Homo sapiens: one gene and its partner. The protein of the gene in region 1 interacts with the protein of each later gene in a biochemical or structural test. Each region holds a gene or a part of one and is shown in the gene's direction. Other genes may lie near its edges.

What was found. Proteins that work in one complex are often made in the same cells at the same time.
Region 2: the proteins of PTMS (region 1) and RXRB form a complex in vitro, tested with the Homo sapiens proteins (one large-scale study listed by BioGRID).

What each region holds. Positions count from the first base shown.
Region 1 is NC_000012.12:6,763,590-6,769,525, forward strand, and holds the start of PTMS (parathymosin), read left to right. Parts: upstream 1-2,773; 5' UTR 2,774-3,116; coding exon 3,117-3,161; intron 3,162-5,936.
Region 2 is NC_000006.12:33,195,015-33,198,479, reverse strand, and holds part of RXRB (retinoic acid receptor RXR-beta), read left to right. Parts: intron 1-15; coding exon 16-172; intron 173-538; coding exon 539-718; intron 719-1,873; coding exon 1,874-2,046; intron 2,047-2,443; coding exon 2,444-2,573; intron 2,574-2,777; coding exon 2,778-2,910; intron 2,911-3,013; coding exon of another isoform or gene 3,014-3,025; coding exon 3,026-3,117; intron 3,118-3,429; coding exon 3,430-3,465. UniProt on the Homo sapiens protein: Receptor for retinoic acid. Retinoic acid receptors bind as heterodimers to their target response elements in response to their ligands, all-trans or 9-cis retinoic acid, and regulate gene expression in various biological processes.

The sequences.
Region 1 (5,936 bases):
AGAAGCACATGCTTCCCCCATTCAACTAGTGGGAGAAATTCTCAATTGGACTGTAGAGTAAGGTAATTCTAGGAATAGGCAAGCCTCCACAAAGCCTCAGAAATAGTTCCACAGAGAAAAGCAAACACAGGCCATTTAGCACCGTTGGCCCCAGAGGCTCTGAGGCTAACCCCTAGGACTGTCGGGTGGCTTTCAGATCCCACTCACTCCACATTCATCCCAAGTCTCACTTCCAGCTTCTTTCTCATGAAGCCAAGACTTCAGAAGACTGGTTTGTTGTCCAACCAGAGAGAGATGGCTAAAGGATGCTTCATCCACCAGGAAAGGAATTCGATCCAGGCCTCCAGCTTTCTAGATCTTTTCCCTGGGGTCCCTCGGACCCTAGTGTTCAAGCTCTTAGATTCTCAAGGCACTCCCTTGGGCTTTGGGGCAGGATTCCCATTCTCTGCCTCTCCATCTCTCTGGAATTTTCCACTGCAGCTGCCTCTGCTCCCAGACACCCCTCCCTGGGCAAAATTCCCGGCTCCCTCCGCCTCCCCTTCCCTAATCACACCTCATTCCCACCCCCAGCCCTGAGGCCCAGCCCACAGTCCGGCCCACAGCCCACGCTAACCCTGGTGGTCCCAGTTAGAGAAGTGGGAGGCCAGGTCCCTTATGGAAGGGTGAGAGGGAGTGTCCCAGCCTCTCTTTAGGGCGGGGAGAAGGGACACTGGAGGGGCTGGTCCCCTGTGGGGCTGGAGTTGGGGGAGTGGCCCTCCTCACATCCCCATATAAGGCAGGGCAAGCAGTTAGGCTTCTGGATTGGCTGATTCAAATGAGCATTCCACCTGGCAACAGGGTTTCTATTGGCTATCAGGAAAAATAGGAGGAAGGTGGATGGAGGTTGTTGGTGGCGGTGATTGGAGGGGGGAGAGGAGTGGAGGTGACCGGAGTGGGGGGCGGTTACCAGGGCAACAGGGTAAGAGCCCAGCAGGGTGTCCGAGACAGCAGGCGGGGCTGGGAGGTGGAGTGGAGGGAAGAGGAAAGGAAGGCGGGAGGGAGAGGAAAGAGCCTGATGGGGAGGGAGCGAGACTGGGAGACTGGGTTGTTGGTTGGGCGGGGGGGGGAGTAGCAAAGGATCGAGGAGAGGGAGATAAATGAAGCAAGAGGAGTACAGAGATGGAGACGGTGAGAGACGGCTGAAGACATCAGCCAGTGAGTCAGAGAAACAGATTGAGAGAGGGACATGGAAAGATCTCAGAAAAGATGGACAGAGTCCGGCAAGGAAAAATCCTGGGTGGGGCCCCAAGATTTTTGAGGAGACTGAGACTGAAATATTGATAGAAAAGTCAGAAAGAGAAACTGGGAGGCGTGTACATCAAGGGACCAAAAGATGGTGTATTTAAGCACTCAAACACAAAATAATGATAATGATCATCAACGTAGTTTTTTATTAATAAAATGAAAATAATAAGATGAGGAATAATGATAATGACAGACAAATATGGGAGTGCACGCACACCAAAGGTCTTTTTCCAAACCCCAGCCTTCCACTCTGTCCACCTTCCTGACCTTTAATACACAACCCAGCCCCTGTTCCCTTCTGAAATCCCAAGCTTTTCAAAATGACTCAAAGATACCGAGATTGAGGGCGAGGAGCTGAGGATGTGTGGAATAGGGTGGGGCTGGAACTCCAGACCTGGACCTGTATTATATTTGCAAAGGAGGCAAATATAACCCAGAAAGGCTAGGGAAGATGGCAGCAGAGGAATGAGAAAAGCTGAAGGATGGAAAATGTAAAAAATGAGGACAGAAAGAGGAGTTGAGGAAAGCCAGCCAAGAATAGAGGGCCAGGTGCCTGACTCAGATAAGACAAGAGCAGGGTTGTCTGGGAAAGATAGGGAAAGAGACCAGAGGTGGAAGGGCAGAAGAGAGTCAGTGAGGAGTGGAGAAGAGGTGAGAGAAGAATGGGAGCGATTCGAGTTATAATTGGTTGTGAAGGAGGGGTCTAGGTACAGATGACTGAGGACGGATGAAGAGAAATAGAAGGACCAGGCGAATAAAAGTGAGGTGAGACGGGCGAATAAGAGAGGTAGAAGATGGAAGAGAGCTGGAAGACAGCAAAGGAGACCAGGGGGCCTGACTCCCCCCGGCTCACAGCACGGGGCCAGGAAGGGAGGCACCCGGCAAGGGTCACAAGTGTCAATCTGGCGGGACAGAAGGCTGGGCCGCCCTTTCTGCCCTCCCATCCCTCCTCAAGGCCATCCAGAGAATGTGGATGGAGGATGAGAGGGGGAAATCCGGCGTGGTGTGGAAGGAGCGCCCGAACCCTCTTCCTCTTCTTTAAGCTTTTGGTTTCTCAAATACCTGCCCTATCTTCCCATCTGCTCCCCTCACCCCACCCCTTGGCAAAATCCCAGGGCTTTTTTTGGGGTCAGTAGGATTCTGGCCACCTCTCCAGTCCGCCCCCAAAAGCCAGACTCCACATTCGCAGGCAGTAGGTTGGGATTTGGAAAGGTGCCTCCCCGCAGGAACCCCACCCCTTCCCACCTCCTCGCCCCACTCTTTCTCCGCGGCCGTCAGTCTCTCCATTTCCCCCTCCTGGTCTCGTCCTCCCTCCCGACTCCCTAGCTCTCCCTCCCCTCGCTTTCATCCTCCTATCCCCACCTCTCCAACCTCCTCTTTCATCCCCCTCCCCTCTCCTCTCCTCCCCGCTCCCGCCTGCCCCACCCCTGGGAAGCCCCTCCCGTCGGGCAGCGCCGCCTTATAAGCGGGTTCCCTTCCCGGGGGCGGCAGCGGCTGGTCGGCGGCAGCTCTGCTGGTGCGGGGGCGGCGAGCCCGGGATCGAGCTACCGCGGCCGAGCGCGCCGGCCACCGCCTGCACCGCCCTTCCGCCCGCCCTCCGGACGGCCGCAGCCCTGCGGGTCTCCGCTCCAGACCCACCCCCGCCCCACCCCGCGCGCCTCTGCCGCCTCTTCCAGAGACCCAGCTTGCCGAGCGGCCGCCGCTGCCGCTGTCGCCGCCGCCGCCGCCACCGCGCCAGGTTCCGGCCGCGGCCACCCTCCGCCGTCCAGGGCCCCTCCGTCTCGGCCCCGGGACCCCGGCTCCCCGCCAGCCCCGGCCCCGGCCCCGGCACCATGTCGGAGAAAAGCGTGGAGGCAGCGGCCGAGTTGAGCGCCAAGGTACGGGCGGGGGCGGCGGCGGCCCGGACCTCGCGCAGCCCTGGGGCCCGGCGCGGTCCTTCGCCCCAGGCCGCCCCCGACGGCCCCGCGCGGCCCTTGCGCCCGGGTCCTGGCGGACCCCACTGCGCCCTCCCACCGCTCCCCGGCCCGGAGCTCCTTTCCCGGCTCCGCGCGGCTAGCGCCAGCGCCCTCTAGCTGCCCTGCGCGCACCACGGCGCCCGGCCTCGCCGCTCCGGTCGCGCCGTCCCCCGCAGCCGTCCCCACCCCTCTTCGGCCCCACCTCGCTGACCGGATCCCGTCCGGCTTCCCGTCCGAACGCCCCGAGTCTCACTTTGCCGCGCCCCCTCCCTGCGCCCCGCTGCCGCGTCTTTGCTTGCAACCTGACCTCACCTTTCCTCGCTAAGCGGTTTGAGATCCTCAAGTGTAAACAGGACTCTCCCTGGAGGCTGCTCCTCCGGGCCCCTCCCCGCGGCCCGACCGTCGCTCGCTTCTCTCCCCGGACGGCGGCCGCCTCTGTTTTCTCGTTCCCTCCCCTCAGCTGGCTTTCAGCTTTCTTTTCTCTTCATCGTCCCCTTCCCGCATACACACTGAAAGAATCTCGAATTCCTAAAAATTAGAAGCGGGGCAGGACTAGCCTTCGAAAAAGCCGAGGCTGGGCATTGCATGGCATTGCGTCGAGCTGTCCTCGCCCTCATCAGCTCCCTTCCCCGGCCCCATCCGTTCGCCCTTGCCTCTCTTCCAGCCTTCCTCTAATTTCCCCAGGGAACCTGCGGAGTGTCGCTTTGGGAAATTAACGCGGCCGGGGTTTGGGGGCTGGGAGCCCTATCTTGTGTGTGTATGTGTATGGCGGGGGGGGGGGGCGCGGTGGTTGCTGAGGGGCCGTCACACAGGTCTCCCGGAGGCCCGCGGAGTGAAACGGGGGGAGCCAATGGGATTAACGGCGGTGGGAGAGGGGCTGTGTGCGATCTGCCAAGGTGCGCCCGTGTGGCCCTCCGGCGGGCTGTGCGGTGGCATGTGACTTCACTGAGTAGGTGTCTTTGTATGTCTGAAATCCAGCGAGTGTGTGGGACTGCCCGTGTCAGTTACATGTGTGCATGTGGAGACGTAGATGTTCTGGAGCCATGTTGTCGCTTTGTGAGTGCTGAGTGGCTCCGCTGTGCTCCCGTGCTGTCTCAAGAGTGTGGACCAGAATGGCCCAACGCTGGGCCATGTGTCTCCCATCGCGTGGGTGCTCCTCTCTAACTGTGTCTGTGCATGGCTGTCGGCCGGTGTCGGTGTGTGTGCCTGTGTTGAGTAAATGAGGCCAGAGGGCTGCTTAGCAGAAGACCTAGGGCCCAGGTCACATATTCTCCTGGAAAAGGGATCATGGAAGGACAGTGACCAGAAGGACAGAACAGGGGAGGAGAGGGCCCGGCCCCTTGAACTTTGGTCTCTGGTATTCTCCCTCCCTGCATCAGCCCAGATGGGAAAGTCAGGCCAGGGCCATACAGACTTTTGGTGCTGGGGCCCCCAGAGAGAAGCTGACCAGCTCTTTGCTCTCCTGGCCCAGGACGTAGGGAAGAGCCCCCTAGGTAGTGGAAATGCCATACTGACCTTGTGGCACAGAAATGAAGACCTCACGGTGGGGTGGAAGGGCACCCTCTCTGGAGTGAGAGTGAAGAGTTCTGAGCTACCCTTAAAGGGAGAAGGGAATTGAGTGCCCCCCAGGGCAGCCGTTCTGCACCAGGCTCCTCTCCTATCCCCTATCCTGTTCCAGAAAGGACCCCCCCGCCCAGGGTGATCTCACACAGGAGACTTCCATTCACATGGAATCAGATACACAGCGTGGCACACCAACACCAGATCAGATCACACAAGGACACCTACCGTGTTACACTGTGCCTGCCAAGGAGTGGGTGGGGAGAGCACTGGAATCTGAATTGGGAGGCTAGTGTAGTGTCCAGAAGGGACTCAGATGTGCCATATCAGCACAGGACGTCAACCTATGCCTGCTAGGATCTTGGGGTGAAGGAGAGGGGCTGGCTGGTGGGAGGGTCTCCTAGACTGGTCCCTCCCTCTTCTCCATTCCTATCCCACCCCAGTCACAGACCTTGTTTGTTGCTCTCTCCTTGTTTCCCACGCCTGCTACTCTTCCCCTCCTTGTTTTCTCTTCTACTTCACCTACATTTCCACCGTAAATGGCTACTTCCACTACACCCATGCATACACCATGGGAGGCAGGGATAGAGGAAACTACTTGAACTGTTTTGGGGCGGGGAGGGCAGAAAGTGGGAGGGGTGCTGGGAATGTGCTAAGGTGTAGTGTTTGGCCAAGTAGGGGCCTGAGGATTAGGGAGACACAGATGGAGAGAAACAAAGACCTTAGAAGCTGAAGGGGAAGCTGGGAGGGATGCCCAGGAGAGAGAGTCCTCAGGAAAAGGCCCCAGAGGTAGACAAAAGGCAGAGCTGGGCGGGCAGTGGCGGGGCAGGCAAGGGAGGCGGAGGGACACAGGAGGGGGCGGGGCACTGAGGCTGCAAGCAGATGGAGAGGATTTGCTTTGCTGAGCTGAACTCTTCAGCCAGTGAGGTTTGGGAGAACTTGATGGGGGTGGGGATCATTACCCTGGTTGCCCGCTCCTGCTTCTTCATCCCTTTCCCACCTCACCTTGGGTCTTGGGGAAGGAGGTGTTTGGTCTCAACCCCTTCATGGCCCTAATGTAAGGACCCTAGGGCCCCTATTCTGTCTCTAAGCTGTGGCCACCTTATTCAGTTCACACACCTCTAAGCTCACTACAGA
Region 2 (3,465 bases), on another chromosome or scaffold:
TTTCCCCCATCCCAGATTAACTCAACAGTGTCACTCCCTGGGGGTGGGTCTGGCCCCCCTGAAGATGTGAAGCCACCAGTCTTAGGGGTCCGGGGCCTGCACTGTCCACCCCCTCCAGGTGGCCCTGGGGCTGGCAAACGGCTATGTGCAATCTGCGGGGACAGAAGCTCAGGTATGTGGCTCAGAGGATGAACAGAGAGGGAGAGTCTGGGCCATGTATCATCACCTGTGGGATTCCCAGGGCTTATGGAGTTTGGTCAGAGCAAGTGACCTGGGGGAGGCCTGATGGGAGTAAAGAAGCTGAAGCTGAGATGTAGGACGCGATTGGGGGGAAGGTCAGAGGGAAAAGGAAGCAGCGTGTAGGGTTTCTGAACAGTGAGGAGACTGGGACTGGATCATCACTCAGCTCCTGGTTCCCTATCTCTGTATTTGGCAAACAGGGAGGACTTTAAGTTTTGCTAGGGGGAGATTGGAAACAGACTAAATGGTGAAGGTGTCTCCATGCAACCTTCTTATTGCTCCTCCCCTTTCCCTGTAGGCAAACACTACGGGGTTTACAGCTGTGAGGGTTGCAAGGGCTTCTTCAAACGCACCATCCGCAAAGACCTTACATACTCTTGCCGGGACAACAAAGACTGCACAGTGGACAAGCGCCAGCGGAACCGCTGTCAGTACTGCCGCTATCAGAAGTGCCTGGCCACTGGCATGAAGAGGGAGGGTAAGGACCCGCCCTGCCCAGGCGTCTTAGACCACATGCCCTTCTCCCTTATCCCACTCAGACTGTGTACCTCTCTGGAAGGGTGGACTGCTCTCTCTCCTCTAGAGGGCGATATTTGATTTCTCTCTCCCTTCGCAGCTCTCCTCCCTGTTACCCTGTTCTGGCCCTTGAGTTTCCTTCTTAATGGTTAGGCCTCTGTGGCCTGCACATATGACCCCTCCCTAGACTGATCCTAGGATAGGATAACTTTTCCTTAGCCATGATGGGCTGTCTCCCCATTTCTAACCTGAGTGGTTCCTCCTCTGATTCCATGGACCTTCTCTGGTCTCTGTCTCCTGTTATCTGTGATCTTTCCTCTAACTCCTGGGACTGGGCACTCTTAAGCTTACAGACTTTACTGAAGACCTCAGGGCTTCCCTTCCTTCTTCTGTGTCTCCATCTTATCTTCTTAAGTCAGATTCCTAGGATTCTGAGAGACACTTTAGAGCATATCTTGGTCAAAACACCCACTTTAGAGAAGATGAGCCTGAGGCTTGGCTTTCCCAAGGTCATGCAACAAAGGAGTGGCAGGCAGGTTTGGGATCAGAACCCACATCTTCAAAGACCTAGGCCAGTGCTCCTTTCACTGCCTATTTGTTGAGTCAGAAGAGCACAAGATTTGCACTCAGACACACTTAGAGTCAGTTGTATGACCTGCCATGTATTATATGAATTTAAGCAAACTAATCTCTTTGAACCCCGAGTTCTTCATCTTAAAAATGAGAATAAATGCTTCCAGCATCATTATGATAATTGAGTGAATGGTAAAATGTGCTTAGCATGTTTCTTGGCATATTTTATTTAAAAAAATTTTTTTTTTCAATCAGCTTTCTCAGGTTGAATCTTGGCATGTTTTTTTTAACCATGTAGTAGGCTCTCCATTTAAATTCCTCCCTAATTCTTTTACCTACCTCACCCTTCCCGACTGACTTACCTGCCCTTTTATAACCCTTCCTTCAGGGCTGCCCCCAGTCCACCCTTTCTAGTGACTTCCCCAATTCCTATAAATATCTCCCAAGGGCCATGAGATCCTGATGAGGCCGTAAGGATATTTGTGGAACCCCTTCATGGCTGGCTGCTGACTTTCCATTTTTTCTCTCCCCCTTCCCCCTGCAGCGGTACAGGAGGAGCGTCAGCGGGGAAAGGACAAGGATGGGGATGGGGAGGGGGCTGGGGGAGCCCCCGAGGAGATGCCTGTGGACAGGATCCTGGAGGCAGAGCTTGCTGTGGAACAGAAGAGTGACCAGGGCGTTGAGGGTCCTGGGGGAACCGGGGGTAGCGGCAGCAGCGTGAGTGTTGGGGTCAATCCACTCTCCTTCGTGATGGGGGTTGGGGGAGGCAGTCTAGGTCTGTTCTACATCCCCTCCCCCTCCTTTCCCCTCATAACCTTCCTAACACTACTTGGGACTGGAGGTGCTGCCAAACAAGGTCTTTCAAACATCTGAGGTGGATGTGATAGCTCCTTCTGTCTCCACTCCCCAAACAACCCACTGGCAGAACCATAGGCATGTCCCAAATAAATAATTGTTTGCACTAATGCCAGAAGAGAAGACTCACTTACAGGGATTGGTTTGGATGGGGCTCACAGGAAGACTATATGTAAGGAGGGGGTGTCAAAAGCCTCTTACAAGGGGGCTCCCAGCATATCTCAAAATCTTCCATAACTCTTACCCCCGTCCCCTGCAGCCAAATGACCCTGTGACTAACATCTGTCAGGCAGCTGACAAACAGCTATTCACGCTTGTTGAGTGGGCGAAGAGGATCCCACACTTTTCCTCCTTGCCTCTGGATGATCAGGTCATATTGCTGCGGGCAGGTCAGTGACCTTGGATCCCTTTGACTTCTTGACATTTGACCCCTCTTTGACTTCCCGATCTTTAGTGACCCCAGTGGCCTTACCTTGCGTACCCAGGGAGCCAAACTTGCTGACCTCGCCACCTCTTTTCTCCTTCTCTTCCACTGATGTGCTTTGAATCCCTTGGCCTGATTTCTGGCTCCTGACCCTTGCTGCCCCACCCAGGCTGGAATGAACTCCTCATTGCCTCCTTCTCACACCGATCCATTGATGTTCGAGATGGCATCCTCCTTGCCACAGGTCTTCACGTGCACCGCAACTCAGCCCATTCAGCAGGAGTAGGAGCCATCTTTGATCGGTCAGTGGCCCTCGGCTAGGCTGGCATGTAGATAGAGGGGGTGGGGCTATAGGCTGGTCCGTGTCCAAGGCTGGCTGAGCTGTGACCTTTGAGTGACCTGCAGGTCCCTCTCCAGGGTGCTGACAGAGCTAGTGTCCAAAATGCGTGACATGAGGATGGACAAGACAGAGCTTGGCTGCCTGAGGGCAATCATTCTGTTTAATCCAGGTAAGAGGAGGATTACCTTTGTCTCTCAAGGCCAAGGCAACCTTGGAGCCTCCTCTTCTCCGAGACTCCTAAGTTACCCAGCTATCCCCCTCAGTAAGACCCTCAACCTGGAAATCTCCCAACTGGCCGAGGAAAAACCCACATCCACGGATCCATCCCACAAACCCAGTGGGCCCTGCTTCCCTTGCCAGGCCTCTGGTAAAGGGCAAGCAAGTGCAGCCCAAAAGGGGCATCCTGTGGCTCACATCTGCATGGCCATCCTGATTTGGTTTGTCTTCATTTCTCTTCCTCCTCTCTTCCCTGCCATCCCAGATGCCAAGGGCCTCTCCAACCCTAGTGAGGTGGAGG